2 separate regions of the Homo sapiens genome follow, and region 2 is linked to region 1. A link means that fine-mapping ties the variant in region 1 to the expression of a gene that starts in the linked region. Tissue or cell type: whole blood. Region 1 holds a variant in brackets; the other region holds the start of a gene. All regions are shown on one strand. Distances are between the middles of the regions.

Region 1 (8,223 bases):
ATGTATTTTGTACAGTTACGGAGGCTGAAGAGTCCACGGTCCAGGGGCTGCATCTGGAGAGGGCCTCCTTGTTGGCGGGGAGTCTGCAGAGTCCCAAGGCCATACAGGGCATCCCATGGCAAGGGGACCGAGCATGCTAGCTCAGGTCTCTCTTCCTTCCTTCCTTTTTTTTTTTTTTTTTTTTTTTTTTTTTTGAGACAAGGCTTCACTCTGTTGCCCAGACTGTAGATTGGAGTACAGCGGCGTGATCTTGGCTCACTGCAACCTCCGCCTCCCAGGTTCAAACGATTCTCCTTCCTCAGCCTCCCGAATAGCTGGGATTACAGGCGCACGCAACTACAGCCCGACTAATTTTTGTATTTTTAGTAGAGATGGGTTTCACCATATTGGCCATGCTGGTCTTGAACTCCTGACTTCAAATGATCCACCCACCTCGACCTCCCAAATTGCTGGGATTACAGGCATGAGCCACCACGCGCGACCTCAGGTTTCTCTTTCTTTCTTATAAAGCCACCGGTCCCACTCCCCCAGTAACCCATTCACGCATCAACCTATTAATCCATAAATGGATCAACCATTCATGAGGGCTCTGTTTTCATGACCTAATCACCTGGTAAATGCCACCCCTCAATCCTGCCACACTGGGGGGTAAGTTTCAACATGCACTTTGGAAGGAACAAATATTTCAACCATATCACCTAGGTACCTCACGTAAGTGGAATCATCCAGCATTTGTCTTTTCGTGACGGGCTTATTTCACTTAGCATAATGTCCTCAAGGCATATCCATGTTGTAGCATGTGTCAGAATTTCCCTCCTTGTAAGGCTGAATGATATTTCATTATAGGTATATACACATTTGTGTGCCCATTTATCCGTAGATGGGTTGGGCAGGACACCAAGCTGGGCAGGGTGGTGACCAATGGAGCAGAATGGCCTCACCTGCCCCAGGAGGACTTACCCTTTACCTCTGTCCCTCACAGCATTGCAGGGACAGACTAGGCCCCATGTGAAATATAGATTCAGAAGACTGCTGTTCTGGTCAGGCACAGTGGCTCACACCTGTAATCCCAGCACTTTACTTTGGGAGGCTGACGTGGGCCAATTGCTTGAGCTCAGGAGTTGGAGACCAGGCTGGGCAACATATGGAGATTCTGTCTCTATAAAAAATAAAACATTTTAGTCAGTAGCCAGGCATGGTGGTCCTGCAATCAATCCTAGCTACTCGGGAGGCTGAGGCATGAGAATTGCTCAAACGCGAGAGGCAGAGGTTGCAGTGAGCCAAGATCGCACCACTGCACTCCAGCCTGGGTGAGTGAGACCCCATCTCAGGAAAAAAAAAAAAAAATCTGCCATCCCAAATAACAGTGGACAGGCCGTTGTCTCCCTGTGCCTGTCTGACCCCATTTTTCCCACCCCCCGCCTCCCTCCAGGGCATTAACCTGTCTGGGGGCCAGCGGCAGCGGGTCAGTCTGGCTCGAGCTGTTTACAGTGATGCCGATATTTTCTTGCTGGATGACCCACTGTCCGCGGTGGACTCTCATGTGGCCAAGCACATCTTTGACCACGTCATCGGGCCAGAAGGCGTGCTGGCAGGCAAGGTGAGGCCTGCCAGAGGCTAAGGGGGCTAAGGTGAGATCTGAGGCCCGAAGAGAGAGCTGGTGAGAGGCTGAGGGGTTTGGATGAGACTTGGAGGTGTGGGGGGCGCAAGAAGTGGGCATGTGGGTTGGGCATCAGGAGAAACCTGTGGGGACAACTCCCCCACCTGCGAGGTTCTGAGCAGGCTGTGGCGAGCACAGGGTGAGTCACCCATGTGCCTGTCCAAGCTCCCTGGCACATGGGCACACTTCACACTCACTCTGTGGCTCCGTGCCTGTGCCAGGGGTGTGCTGGAGGGTGGTAGGGGTGAGAGCCTGCTGCCTTCTCCCCAGACGCGAGTGCTGGTGACGCACGGCATTAGCTTCCTGCCCCAGACAGACTTCATCATTGTGCTAGCTGATGGACAGGTGTCTGAGATGGGCCCGTACCCAGCCCTGCTGCAGCGCAACGGCTCCTTTGCCAACTTTCTCTGCAACTATGCCCCCGATGAGGACCAAGGGCACCTGGAGGACAGCTGGACCGGTATCTGCCATCCTGGGCCCTCTGATTCCCATGCCTTCCCAGCATTCCCCCTGTCTGGGGTCTCTGAGTGTGTCTAGACTGGCCTAGTGTTGTGCCAGGCAGGTTCTGGGAAACTTGGGCCATCTGTGTGACAGTCACCAGAGGTAAAGTAAACTGGACATAGTCGGGTCCCACTGCCTCCTCCATCCTACTCTACCCTAACTGTGGGAACTCAGATCCTCCGCCCCGGTCTCAGAGCCTGTTTTCTTTCTTTCTTTCTTTCTTTCTTTCTTTCTTTCTTTCTTTCTTTCTTTCTTTCTTTCTTTCTTTCTTTCTTTCTTTCTCTCTCTCTCTCTCTCTCTCTCTCTCTCTCTCTCTCTCTCTCTCTCTCTCTCTCTCTTTCTTTCTTTCTTTCTTTCTTTCTTTCTTTCTTTCTTTTTTTTCTTTTGAGGCAGAGTCTGGCTCTGTCGCCGGGCTGGAGTGCAGTGGTACAATCTCAGCTCACTGCAACCTCTGCCTCCCAGGTTCAAGTGATTCTCCTGCCTCAGGCTCCCGAGTAGCTGGGACTACAGGCATGCGCCACCACGCCTGGCTAATTTTTGTATTTTTAGTACAGACATGGTTTCACCATGTTGGCCAGGATGGTCTCGATCTCTTGACCTCGTGATCTGCCTGCCTCGGCCTCCCAAAGTGCTGGGATTACAGGTGTGAGCCACCTTGCCCGATCTCAGAGCCTGTTTTCCATCTGTTGAAAGCATAGGAGGGCCCAGGCCCAGCTTGTGTGGCAAGGCTGCTTCATGGATAAATAGTTTGGCAAGTATGCAAGTGCTTAGCAAAGCCGCTTATTTATCAACCAAAATTTATTGGACAATCACTATATACAGGCACTGTTCCAGACACTAAGCTATAGCAGTGAGCAAACAAAAAAATTATAGTCCTCATGGAGCTTGTTGACGTCTCTGGGCTCACAACATGCCCCTGGCTCCTTGTTGCCCAGACCCAGCTCCCCAGCCCCCAATTCTGGATTGGCTCACAGACCTTTTCCTGGGCTTTCTTGCCTATGGCTATACATACAGCCAACGTGCCTTGAGCATTTACCAAGTGCTGTGCCCCTCGCTCACACACTGGACACATTTTCTTTTAAGCCTACAGTCATGCAGATTTTTTTTTTTTTTTTTTGGGGACAGTTTCTCACTCTGTTGCCCAGGCTGGAGTGCAACGGTGCGATCTTGGCTCACTGCAACCTTTGCCTCCTGGGTTCAAGCGATTCTCCTGCCTCAGCCTCCCGAGTAGCCAGGATTATAGGTGCCCGCCACCACGCCCGGCTAATTTTTGTATTTTTAGTAGAGACGGGGTTTCACCATGTTGGCCAGGCTGGTCTCGATCTCCTGACCTCGTGAGCTGCCTGCCTCAGCCTCCCAAAGTGCTGGGATTACAGGCGTGAGCCACCATGCCCGACCAAGGACGTGAGTTTTAAGCTCAGCCAGTCTAACTCCAGAGCCCAAGTTCCTAACCCTTGTATTTGAGTCCGTTTCTCCATAATTTGTGAAGAGAGTTTTTCTTGTTGCTTAACCCAAGTCTTTCTTGTTGCCCTTTCAATC[C/T]CCCTCATTTTATTTTCATGCTTGTCCATTGAACCCCTTTCATTAGAGTGGGGAATGGGAGATACCAGGGGCTTGCAGGGAGAACTAGCTGAACCCTATCTCCTTCCTCCCACCCTACTGCAGCGTTGGAAGGTGCAGAGGATAAGGAGGCACTGCTGATTGAAGACACACTCAGCAACCACACGGATCTGACAGACAATGATCCAGTCACCTATGTGGTCCAGAAGCAGTTTATGAGGTGAGTTCCTGAGAGCTCCCAGCCCTCCCGGAGGCTGTATCAGGCCTCCCCAGGCCCTGCCAGATGGGGTGCAGGTTTCTCCCTGACACTCCCAGCCTCTGTCCTGGGGGGTGCTTGAGGCCCCCTCCCTGGGCCTGACCAGCTGCCTCCACAGACAGCTGAGTGCCCTGTCCTCAGATGGGGAGGGACAGGGTCGGCCTGTACCCCGGAGGCACCTGGGTCCATCAGAGAAGGTGCAGGTGACAGAGGCGAAGGCAGATGGGGCACTGACCCAGGAGGAGAAAGCAGCCATTGGCACTGTGAGTCGGTGGGGCAAGAGGGGCTGGAGGGGATGGACAGGCAGGCCCCAGCAGCCCCAGGGTTTATGGAGTCCCCTGTCCCTGACTGCCATGGCTGCTCCCTACAGGTGGAGCTCAGTGTGTTCTGGGATTATGCCAAGGCCGTGGGGCTCTGTACCACGCTGGCCATCTGTCTCCTGTATGTGGGTCAAAGTGCGGCTGCCATTGGAGCCAATGTGTGGCTCAGTGCCTGGACAAATGATGCCATGGCAGACAGTAGACAGAACAACACTTCCCTGAGGCTGGGCGTCTATGCTGCTTTAGGAATTCTGCAAGGTGAGCTTGTGGGGGTGTCCAGAAGGGGCTCCAATATCCCTTCTTCTCTGGGCTGCCAGGCCCCCCAAACCGTGCCCTTGCATCCAAGCCTCCCTAACCCACTCTGGTCAACCCGTGTCTCTGATTCTGCCCCTTTGTGCCCGCTCACTAGTCCAGGTGAGCCAGCGCCCTCTGCCTTCTCCAACAGGGTTCTTGGTGATGCTGGCAGCCATGGCCATGGCAGCGGGTGGCATCCAGGCTGCCCGTGTGTTGCACCAGGCACTGCTGCACAACAAGATACGCTCGCCACAGTCCTTCTTTGACACCACACCATCAGGCCGCATCCTGAACTGCTTCTCCAAGGACATCTATGTCGTTGATGAGGTTCTGGCCCCTGTCATCCTCATGCTGCTCAATTCCTTCTTCAACGCCATCTCCACTCTTGTGGTCATCATGGCCAGCACGCCGCTCTTCACTGTGGTCATCCTGCCCCTGGCTGTGCTCTACACCTTAGTGCAGGTGTGGGGTGGGCGTGATTCCAGTGTGGGCGTGGTGTTATTGGGGCGGGGCAACACATGGGCGGGGGCAGCAGGGGTGGGACACTTCAGGCCACCAACATTACAGAGTTTTGTTAGGGGCAGTCGTTGCTTAACATTTATGTTAGGGGAGCCATTACTTAACCTCTTTGAAACTCATTTGCCTCACCTGTAAAATAGAATGACTCATAGACCTTCCTCATGGAGTTGGTGAGAGAATAAAATGAAATAGTTATACATTGTAGCTGGCACTGGGACTTTCCTGTTGGCTTTTTTTTTTTGGGGGGGGGGGGACGGAATCTCGAGTCTCGCTCTGTCGCTCAGGCTGGAGTGCAGCTGCACGATCTCAGCTCACTGTAACCTCCGCCTCCCAGGTTCAAGCAATTCTGTTTCAGCCTCCCAGGTAGCTGGGATTACAGGCATGCGCCACCACGCCCAGCTAATTTTTGTAGTTTTAGTAGAGATGGGGTTTCACTATGTTGGCCAGGCTGCTCTTGAACTCCTGACCTCAAGTGATCCGCCCACCTCGGCCTCCCAAAGTGCTGGGATTACAGGTGGGAACCACCATACCCGGCCTTCCTGTTGGCTGTTTTTTGATAAAACATTGTCAACAGTTTGGGACACATTATCCTTTCCTTCCTTTTATACATATCTAAACATACGTGTATGCATGCGTTTAACATAGATGAGTTGATAACCTTCAGATACAGCTAACTGTAAAAGGCCTTTGCAGACACTGAACTCCTGTTCTGTAATGAATTAGTCAGTTCCCGGGGATAGATGCTCAACACCTGGGTATAGCGACCATGATCTAGGCTGTGCTCTGTGCTGGGCTAGGGGAGAATCAGATAGACATCCTGTATAGCCTGGATATCTGAGGCCACAGAGGAGAGGATGGAAACTGGAGGCAGAGCCGTGTTGTTGTGGGGTTGAAGCAGAGATGATCAGAGGGAGGGAGTGAATGACACATCAAGGCCCCAAGTCTTGGGTCCTTGGAGGTGGGGGAAGGCAGCGATGTCTCGTGGTGGGAGTGAGGCTGGCTGGGAGGACTCATCTGAAAATGGATGAGTTCAGAGACAGGCAGGACTGAGTTGGGGGTTCCATGGCCCTGACCCCAAACTCCTTCTCCCTCCATCAGCGCTTCTATGCAGCCACATCACGGCAACTGAAGCGGCTGGAATCAGTCAGCCGCTCACCTATCTACTCCCACTTTTCGGAGACAGTGACTGGTGCCAGTGTCATCCGGGCCTACAACCGCAGCCGGGATTTTGAGATCATCAGTGATACTAAGGTGGATGCCAACCAGAGAAGCTGCTACCCCTACATCATCTCCAACCGGTCAGAAGCCGCCTCCCTCGCTCCCTGCTCCTCCAGGAATTCCCAGCAGGCTCTCTGGTGTTCAGGGTCCTTGTCCCTCCTTTCCCCTAAGCAGAAAACTGGCCCTGCCCTGCCCCTGCCCCATTTCCTCCTCATCTGATCCCCCATAGGTGGCTGAGCATCGGAGTGGAGTTCGTGGGGAACTGCGTGGTGCTCTTTGCTGCACTATTTGCCGTCATCGGGAGGAGCAGCCTGAACCCGGGGCTGGTGGGCCTTTCTGTGTCCTACTCCTTGCAGGTATGAAGGGCCTGGACCCCAGGGCAGGGCCACCACTGGGACAGAAACCACACAGGTGTTCCAGGCATCTCCCGAGTGCCCCTCCCTGCTCAGTATGGGCACCAGCCACAGGGTCTGTTCTCAAGGACTGTGAGAAAAAAAAAAAAAGAAAAAAATCATTGAGTTGACAAGTTTATAACCACACACCATGGCTGGATGTTCCTACTTTCCTTCCCCAAGAAGCCCATGTTCTCACATTCAGAAAGAATTCTGTTGAATAATCTCTGTCCTCAAACCCCACATCTCTCTCCTGCTCAGCCGTCGACCTTGCCTGACACCTCACAGTTCAACTGGAGAGACCCCCATCAGCAGGAGATTGTGCTGCAGGCTGAGCAGGTCTTTGTGGCTGGAGAAACAAAATGTTTTAAAAGCCCAGAAGAGGGACTGGGTGCAGTGGCTCACACCTAATCCCAGCACTTTGGGAGGCGGAGGTGGGCGGATCACCTGAGGCCAGGAGCTCCAGAACAGCCTGGCCAACATGGTGAAACCCTATCTCTACTTAAATACAAAAATTAGCCAGCCGTGGTGGCGGGCATCTGTAATCCCAGCTACTCAGGAGGCTGAGGCAGGAGAATAGCTTGAACCTGGGAGGCAGAGGTTGCAGTGAGCCAAGATCACGCCACTGCACTCCAGCCTGGGTGACAGAGCGAGACTCCATCTCAAGAGAGAAAAAAAAAAAGTCCAGAGGAGTTTTCTTGCTTTGGGGTGTTGTAGAAATGATCTTGGAGCTTAGCCCCAAAGGACAAACAGAATTTCTCTTGTCTCTGGGCAAGTTGTAGGCTCATGTGACAGGTCAGGACAGTGTAGGGCTGGCATACCGCTCGCTCACGTTCACATGCTTGCAGAGAACGTACACAGACGAGGTGACTGAAGCCTGGTCTGCAGGTCAGGCAGGTCATCCTGATGCCAGCTTGTACTGTCAAAGAGTCACCTAACTGCAAACGGAATTTTTGTAAAGCAGATCACATTGTTAATACCTCAGGTGGCTCAAACCTTGAACGCGTTGGCAAACAAAAAACAATCCAGAAAGGTCAATTTTCACAAAGGTCAGTGTGCACATGAATCTACTTGTTAAAATGTACATTTTGATTCAGTAGACCTAGGATGGGGCTCAGGACTCTGCACTTTGATCAAGACTCCTTGGTACGCAAAGTGTGGCCCATGGGCCAGTTGCATCACCATCCTCTGGGAGCTTGTTAGAAATGAAGAATCTCAGGTTCCAAGTCCCACCTCAGACTACAGAATCCGGCGTTGCATTTTAACAAGATTCTCTGGGAAGTCTTATACATATTAAAGTTGGAGAAACAGAAACCAAGGCGAGGTGGTCCTTGGTTAAGTCTGCACTGTCACTGCCCAAGGGAGTCATTCGTGATTACAGCCCCAGCTGGCATGCCTGTGGGCTTGATCCAGGCCCACCTGGGTCATCCATGGGCTAGGATCCCATGGATGGGCACATGATCCAGGAGTCTGAACTCCTCCCAAAGCCATTACGGTGGGGAGGGG
Region 2 (8,000 bases), 40 kb before region 1:
AGGAAGCAGACCCCACTTCAGGGGAGAGGACAAGGGGGAGGCTGGGGCGTGGGAGCTGCAGCCTGGTTTGGGGGTGCTCCAAGCCTCCAAGGAGCCGCAAGGGGCTAAAAGGAATCAGGCAGTGCTTGGAGGGGAAGCTTTGCTATTCCACACCCTGCCCCTCTGTCTTGTCAGTTCCAACCTGCCTCTCTCCCTTCGGAGCATTTCCTGTGCCTGGGTCTCCCCATTGCCCCCATTCTGCTTTCTTCTCTCTGCTGTCATGCTTGCTCTGAGCTGTACCTTGCAATTATTTTATCTTTCCATCTCCTTGCCAGGAAATCCTTGACGCCGGGTTCCCCTGGGACACTCACTGCGGGGGAGGCACCGCACATGCTCCATCCATCCTGCCTGGAGCAGCAGTCAGTTGGGGAGGGAGGATGGGGCTTGGGCCATGAAGGCTGGGGGAGGTTTGGTCCATTTCTCTGCTGCAGCCCAACCCACAAGGCCGTTACTGCTTCTCCGGAGCCCTTCCAGCAAGAACCATCTTGGTTCTGAACACTCAAAAGCAAAGTGGGCAGTGCCCACTGCTGGGACTGTACTTAATGCCACAGTGGCCTTGTTACCTATGACTCCTTCTTAGGAAATGAGGTGTTTGCTTAATCAGTCAACAACACTTCCTGAGGACCAACTTCTCCAGGCACTGTCCTGGGTGCTGAGGATACAGTGATAAACAAACTTCAGTCCCTACCCTCAAGGTGTCCACAGTCCTCTGGGGGAGGTAAGCAAGACATCAGTGATTACAAGTGGGGGAAGCCTCCTAGCCCAGGACTGGGTTGGGGAGGTCCAAGGAAGGCTTTGACGGGGAGGGGGGCTTGAGCGAACTCTTGAAGAAGTTTGCCACTTGCAGAAAGGGAGGTAGGGTGTAGGTAGGAGAGTGCACCAAGCAGCCTTGAAGACAGATACAGGAAGTGCATCCCGCTCAAGGAGACTGCGCAGAAACAGTCTCCTCGGCAGACGTGGGGCGCCTCCTGCGTGTGCTGGGATAAGCTCTGTGGCGCTGAGCAAGCTGTAGGGTGTCTCAGGGCCTCAGATTTCTTGCTCTGGTGAGAACAACCAAAACAATAACATCCTAGAAATATTGTGGTTATTATTCAAGGGCTCTGTGAAAGGGGACACACTTCCTGAGTGGCCTGGAGGGGTAAAGCCCCAATACCTCAAGAGAGATGGGGGAAGGTGAGGATCGCTAAGGGCCCCCACCACGCCCTCAGAGTGCCCAACCCAGTGCTATAGCCTTGGGAAAGCAATAGCGATAGAAAAGCCTGGGGCTGCAAGGGATGGTGCTTCAGCTCCGATGCTGAAGCCAGAACCCAAGGGTCCTAGCCCAAAACTAGAGCTCCAGCCAGTGCACTGCCTGGCCAACTGTGGGGCTGGAAAGTCCCGGACGGAAGCTCAGGCTAGTTCTGGGCTCTCCATCTCAGAAAGGAGGTCTGATTGGGGAGCTCACCTCCCAAAGGGCCCTAAAGGAAAGTCCCCAGGTCTCCTCAAGCCCAGAGCAATCTGGTGCCTATGACCCCACAAGCCCTAGAAAAGGAATGGGAGAGGAGGGAGAGTTGGAGGAAGCCGGTGGGTAGACAAGGTCAAAACACAGGGGCAGTGGGTGCTGATGAAGCCATGACCAGGGTCATGGAAGGGGTGGAGGAAGGTTCCCAGCTGCCTAGGCCATAGAAGCCTGGCCCACCAGGGCTGGAAGAGAGCTTAGATATCACCCTGTCCACGTTTCTCAAGAAATGAAGTCCCAGAGGCATCAAGGAGCTTATTGAGATCACACAGTGTATAAAAGGTATGGAGGGGGATTGGAGGGGACTGAGTTAGTCCCTGCCCTTGGGGACCTCTCAGATTAGCAGGGAAGACAGACTCTTCATAACTAAATATAATCCAAGGCACGCCGTAACAAGGTGTAAAGCTCTGTAAAGTATTTTGCCCAGAGATGAAGGTAGGGGGACAGGAGAGGGAGGGTATGTGTGGATGAGTGGAAAGGAAGAGGGCAGACAAAGAAGGGGCTGAAAGAACTTGCCCAGTGGAGGGGTAGAAGTCCCTGGTCTGACTGCCTGGGAAAGGGGAATCTTCTCCACTCCCACCCCTATCCCATGCCCAGCCAGATCTTGGTTCTGATAGCCTATAGCCAAGGAGACTTCCCTTCTAGTGACCTCCTGGCTGCCCAGAGAGATAGGAGGTGGCTTGCCCCTTCTGCACTCTTACTGGCTCCCACCCACACCTGCCGCTGAGCAGCCAAGGAAGGAAACACCTTCTCTTGAGAACAAGGGCCAGAAAAGGGGTCACCGGGGTGAAACTGGACAGACCTGTGGGCAAAGGCAGGGAAGAGAAGGGCCAGGGAAAGATTTGCCAGGGAGAATTCCTTCTGAGCCCCAACAAGCGGTGCTGAGTTGGCGTCTGGGATTGTGTTAAGGAAGACAGGGCAACAGCGGGATTGAGAGATGGAGGGATCCCCGCATCTGAGGGGATACCGGGAGAAGGAGAGCTGAGGCAAGCAGGAGAAGGAGAGCACTGACAAGCCCATTTTACAGATCAGGAATGTAGAGTTTCAGCCTTAGGAGGAGGACGAGGACGAGGACACTCACGTGGGGCTCCTCCTGGGGCTTCACCTGTCCTTCCCCCCCCAACCCTGATCAGGCTGAAGCAGAGGGAATTCACACATGTTGGGTGCCCACTAAGTGTGCCAGGAAATACGCTTTGCCTACCCTTTCCATTCAATCCTCAGAGAACCCTGGGAGGAAGATTCTCTTCTATGATTGTCTCTATTTTACGGATGTGAAAGTAGAGGCCCAGAGACGTGCCGAGGTGATGTGGCAAGGTCAGGGAGCCACAGAGCCTAAGAGGGCAGCAGTTTAAGAGGACATAAGAGGCCCCCGCTGGACGATGCTGCGGCCCCCACCCCCGCCTCACGGGTACACACCCGCGGAGCACACCCCGTGTGCTCCCCGTGTGGCGCCTGCCAGTGGTCTCTGGAACCTGATGGGGAAGAGGTCAGCTTCCTGATTGAGCACAGAAGCCCTTCCCATTTTACAGATGAGGAAACTGACCTCCGGAGAGGAACGTGACCTTCTCAAAGATTCCTTTTTTACTAGGAAAGATTGTTAAATCCCTCTCCCTACGTCCCCTACTCAATGACTCATCGGCCCCACGGACTTGTTCGGGAGTGGGAGCGCCTGTGTATCCCAGTTCCCCCTTGGAAATAGACTCGACTCCTGGACTGTTAGCCTCGGTATTTAGAGAGACATCCCCCTGGCTTGGCCCAGGGGCCGCTCGCAGGGGCTGTCGCCGTGCCAAGGGCCCCCCCACCTCTGCCCCAAAGTCCCTCCCAGGGAGGCGCTGTCGCAACCCGCGGGACGGGGGCAGGGAGACCGGACCCAGAGGCACTGGGGTAGGGCTCGGCAGGGCGGGTCCGGGCGGAGCGCGGGGTGCGGAGGGCGGAGGCGGCTCCGGCGCCCGCTCTGCCCGCCGCTGGGTCCGACCGCGCTCGCCTTCCTTGCAGCCGCGCCTCGGCCCCATGGACGCCCTGTGCGGTTCCGGGGAGCTCGGCTCCAAGTTCTGGGTAAGGCGCGGGGCTCCGGGGTCACTGCGCGGGGGCCAGGGTCGGCCGGCTTCGCCCGGTCCCCGCCGCCTGCCTTCCCGCGGGGCCGGCAGGTATCCCGGGACGGAGCCCCTGAGACGGCCTGGGCGCCCGGGAGGGGGCGATGGGCTCGGGAGGGAGGTTGGCTGCGCCGCCCGGAGCCGGGTCCCACGCGGTGTCGGGGACCTGCCCTGCTCTGCCCTTCCCGGCTGCAGCACTGGGGAGCCCGGGAAAGTGAGGAAGAGTGCGCGGCTGGGGCGCAAAGGCACAGTGCGTGGCTGGGTGAGTCGGCTCCATCCCAGCCCCTCCGTCGGGTGCGGAAGGGGCGTTTCGCAATCAGCCGCGGGTTCCTGATGGAGGGTCTTCCCTCAGCATCTGCCTCAGGTTAGGACTCGGTTGCCCACCTGGGCATGGATTGCCCCCAGGGCATCCAGAGCACCTGCTCAACCAGGTGTTTTGGGAGGCCGGCTGTGCAGTGTCCCACCCTTCTTAGGAAGGTTTCCTGCCACCTTCTTTTCTCTAGGTAAGACTGAGGTCTGAGAGCAGGCCATCCCCACCACTCCGGACTCAGAAGGGAGAAGCAGACCCCAGTCTGGAGACAGGTGCAGGGTGTCAGGATTCCTGTAGTCCAACTCCCTTCTCACAGATGGAGAAAGGGAGGCCCAGAGAGAGGAAGGGACTTGCCCAAAGTTACCCAGTTCAATGAAGGCAGAGCTGGGATAGAAAAACAGGCTACAGGCCAGGTGCAGTGGTTCACGCCTGTAATCCCACCCTTTGGGAGGCAGAGGTGGGAGGATCACTTCAGCCCAGGAGTTTTAGATTACTGTGAGCTATGATCGCACCACTGCACTGTGGCCTGGGCGAAAGAGTGAGACCCTGTCTCTAAAAAAATAAATAAATAAGAAAAGAAAATCAAGCCTTTGGTGACTCTCACTCCAAATCTCTTTCTAAGACAGGCTGCTCTTCAGCCTGCTGACTCCAGCCTCCAGCACAGTTCAGGTGAGCTAAGTGCATACAGCCTAGGAGCTTTCTTACCAACTTGCAAAACTTACTTGCCTCTATGAGGCAAGTGATCATGTGGTCTCCGTTTTACAGAGGGAGCTCAGATTAAAGGTGCTTCTCTGTGGTCATTAAAGGGGTGTCCAGGGCTTGTGAATCCCAATCTCTAAGTCTTTTCCTATTTTGAGTATTTGTACATATATGCCCTTTGTGTGTGTACGCACACACGCAGGCACGTGGGGTGTTACCCAAGAGTTCGTGCTGTGCACGTGTGTGCACAGGTGTATAAGTCTGGAGCTATGCTCTTGGGCTGTGTTTAGAATGGGCTGAAGGCGTTATATGGATTTTTTGAAACTTGGGGCAATGGAGGTAAAAAAAAAAACTGTAAAAAGGCATATTTGGGATTCTCTCTTTTTCTGTGGGTGACCCAAAGGTTAATCCGAGATGGTGCAACTTCTCTGCCACTGCCCTTCTTTCCCAGTCCCACAGGAACTTCATGTATTATTCAGCATGGACAGGCCACTTGCCACCAGGGTCCAGAGGTTGTGCCTTTGCCTCATGAGCACACTTCCTTTCACTGCCCTTTGGGCCAGGCTGGTATGACCGTGGCAGGTTTGTGGTGCCTGGGATGCCAAACAGAAAATCAAGAGGGTAGTTGTGCCCAAGCTTCAGGCACAAGGGCTCATTGTTCCTGGGTAGCCTCCTGAACCCTGAGAGCTTAGGACTCTACAGAGACAGGTCTCCTGGACCCCAGAGTTGGGAAATTCAGGACTCCCTTTTTGTCCCATGTTCAGACATCCTCTGGCTCTACCTTAACATGGGATTGTGGAATCCAAGAAAGTGGGAGCTTGGGAGTTTGAAGCAGCGAGTCCAACCCCTCAGTGTAGAGCTGGGGAAACTGAGGCCAAGGGAGTGAAGGTCACAGGACAATCAAAGACAGAGTGCTGGGCTGGGAAACCGGACCCCGGGGCTGTGGTTACAGGGTTGCCATTGCCTGGCTGTGAGCCTTTGAGCCTCTGGGCCCTCTGGCCCGCGCACTTCTCCTTGATGCTCGTGAGCTATACACACCTCCTCTGAGGATGCAGGCTCAGTGGGAGTCAGCTCATCTACATTATGAAGCCCTCGTGAGATCTCTGCTTGGATACCTTAAATGGCAAACTGACCACCCCCCTTCCCACCCCAATCTCTAAACATCTTTCACATTCTCTTCTGGCTCCTGAAAGCTGTTCCAGGCTGCACCCAGTGTGGCTGGTGACTGGGGAAGGAGCGTGGAGAGAGAAAGGAGGCTCCCAGCTCATCCTCTGAGGGAATGACAGGGTTTGTACAGCTGAAAGGAGAGAGAGTCTACACTGGAAGCTGGATCCTCTGCCACAGCCTAATTACAAAAAAGGCCTGGAGTTCTGGGCTGTTCATTTGTGATGTGCTGTGTTGCATCTCATTTGCATGGTGTATTATTAAGGCACAACTCCCCCTGAACCTTTACCTTAGGGGCCTGTGGGTGACCCACTTTGTGGGAAGTGGTTCAGGGCAGCCCGGAAGTACCTGAACTAGGAGTGAAAATGCAAGGAGGGGGTGGGGTGTTCAGGCCCCTCTGGGCCGCTCATTTAATCTACCAAGATGCTCAGTAGCTCATCCTTATAGCTTCAGTTTCTCCACCAGTGGAATGGGAAATAACCCAACCCCTACCCACCTCACAAGATTTTTCTGATCAAATGAGACAGGGAATGTGGAATGATTTTAAGAACTAAGAAGTTTTCTATGGGTGGCAAGTTCTGACATTCCCCGGAAGAGGGAGGAGAAAGAAAAATGGGGTTAGAAGAAAATGTCAGACGTGGGAAGACCTGCAGGGAAAGAGCTGGTAGGGCTGTCGGGCCAGTGGCTCCCATTTCAGCTGTTTGCTGGGGAGCTGGGAGCTGTTCCTGGCTCAGTCTGAGGGTAGGAGACTGGAGAGGACCATGCCCCTTGGGACATGTGTACACACATCTGTGTACTCACACACCACCTGCCAGGTGAATGATTTGTGTGAATCCTTCTCTCTCTCACCCATATCGACTTTGAAGCAGGTTACCAACTTCCCTGAATGTGCCTTGGGAGTTTTTGTGGAAATAAATTCCAAAAGAGTGAACTGTGTAATTAAACCACCTCACTACTCAGGAGGCCAGAGGTGCCTCAGAACAAGGGAGGAGGTGGGATCCTCTGCCTGCAGGATTCCTCTCTGTTCTGAACCACAGAGGTTGGGAGCACCTGGGTGGTGAAGGGAGTATGTGGAGGAAGGGCCTGGAGGTATTTACCCCCCGCCAGATAAACACCTGTTGGCAGAATTAGCCTTGATCTGACAGCCCCAGGAAGCTTAGAAATCTGAAGATCCTGACCATGAAAGCCATCCAAAGATGGCAAGGACCGCCTGAGAAGTAGTGAGCTCCCTGTCACTGGGGGGTATGTAAGGACATGGTTAGTGACTGCTTGGCGGAGATGCTGGAGAGAGGATTCAAGCCAGGAAAGAAGGTGGGGTCCTGAGATTCTGTGACTGGGTAGAGGGAAGATGCGGCCAGTGGGGATTCATTAGTTCCTCCTCTGAGATTTCTGGACTCCTCCTTCCCTGGCTCTCTCCCTGCTCTACATACGGAATTTGCCTAGAAGCAGCTCTTGGTAGAGGCCTCTGGGTCTCCCCTTGGTTAGGCCCACATGGGAAAGGTGACCTCATTGTTCCCTTAGCTGTTTACCCATCCTAGGGAGGGGCAGATCCCTGGTCCCTTGGAGGCTCAGCTCCCTGTGTCTCCTGCTCTGTTTTAGCTAGCCCCAATTCTGCTATTCACCAGCTGTGTGACTTTGGGCAAATGACTCACCTTCTCTGGGCTCCAGCAGGGCTGAGGTGGGCTCTGGGGCCTGCTTCAGGTCTGGAGTTGCCCAATTTTGGAAGGATGAGCCTTGGGCTTGGGGGCGAAGGCTATGCATGATTAGGGCCCTTCAAAGCTTAGAGCTCCTGGGTATCAGGGTCTCCTCTGCCTTCTTAGTAGGCAGCCACAAAAATGTATGAGTAATGGGCAAGGCTCCTATGCCAATGTATTTTGACTCACAAATGAAGACAGTGTCCTGCACATCCATGGGGAAGCTGAGTGGGAGGTAGACACTCCTCCGCTTAGCAGACACCATAGCTCACCCTCCCCTCAGGAACCCAGTCCTCCCTGCAAGGCCAGAGCTCCCGGGGCTCCTTTCCTCCATCTCAGCTGCTGCAAGCAAACCCAGTGCTGGATGGCTTTGACCTCTGAGCTCTTGGCTTCTGGCTACGGCATTTCATTGCTTGTGGCCTCAGGCTGGCTTCTCCTCAATCCTGCTGTTCCCCCACTTCACCTGGGCCTTAGGTCCCTGAGGGCCAGAGAGATACGGGGAA

Evidence for each region. PIP is the estimated chance that this variant, and not a neighbour inherited with it, causes the effect.
Region 2: it holds the start of ABCC3, and the variant in region 1 is fine-mapped to the expression of ABCC3 in whole blood (INTERVAL, PIP above 0.99).

What each region holds. Positions count from the first base shown.
Region 1 is chr17:50,671,539-50,679,761 of GRCh38, forward strand. ABCC3 (ATP binding cassette subfamily C member 3) reads left to right here. Exons shown (of 31, transcript NM_003786.4): 18 at 1,433-1,600; 19 at 1,931-2,120; 20 at 3,824-3,938; 21 at 4,093-4,237; 22 at 4,345-4,552; 23 at 4,740-5,050; 24 at 6,206-6,405; 25 at 6,555-6,681. Among named protein-coding and RNA genes, the nearest start is that of ANKRD40, 32 kb to the right of the region's middle. RefSeq lists a silencer at 5,790-6,084. The variant C/T (reference allele first, on the strand shown) is at 3,701.
Region 2 is chr17:50,631,390-50,639,389 of GRCh38, forward strand. ABCC3 (ATP binding cassette subfamily C member 3) reads left to right here and starts at 3,492. Exons shown (of 31, transcript NM_003786.4): 1 at 3,492-3,592. The coding sequence starts at 3,548. LOC101927253 (a long non-coding RNA gene) reads right to left here and starts at 551. Exons shown (of 2, transcript XR_243718.2): 1 at 351-551. RefSeq lists a silencer at 3,462-3,511 and an enhancer at 7,242-8,000.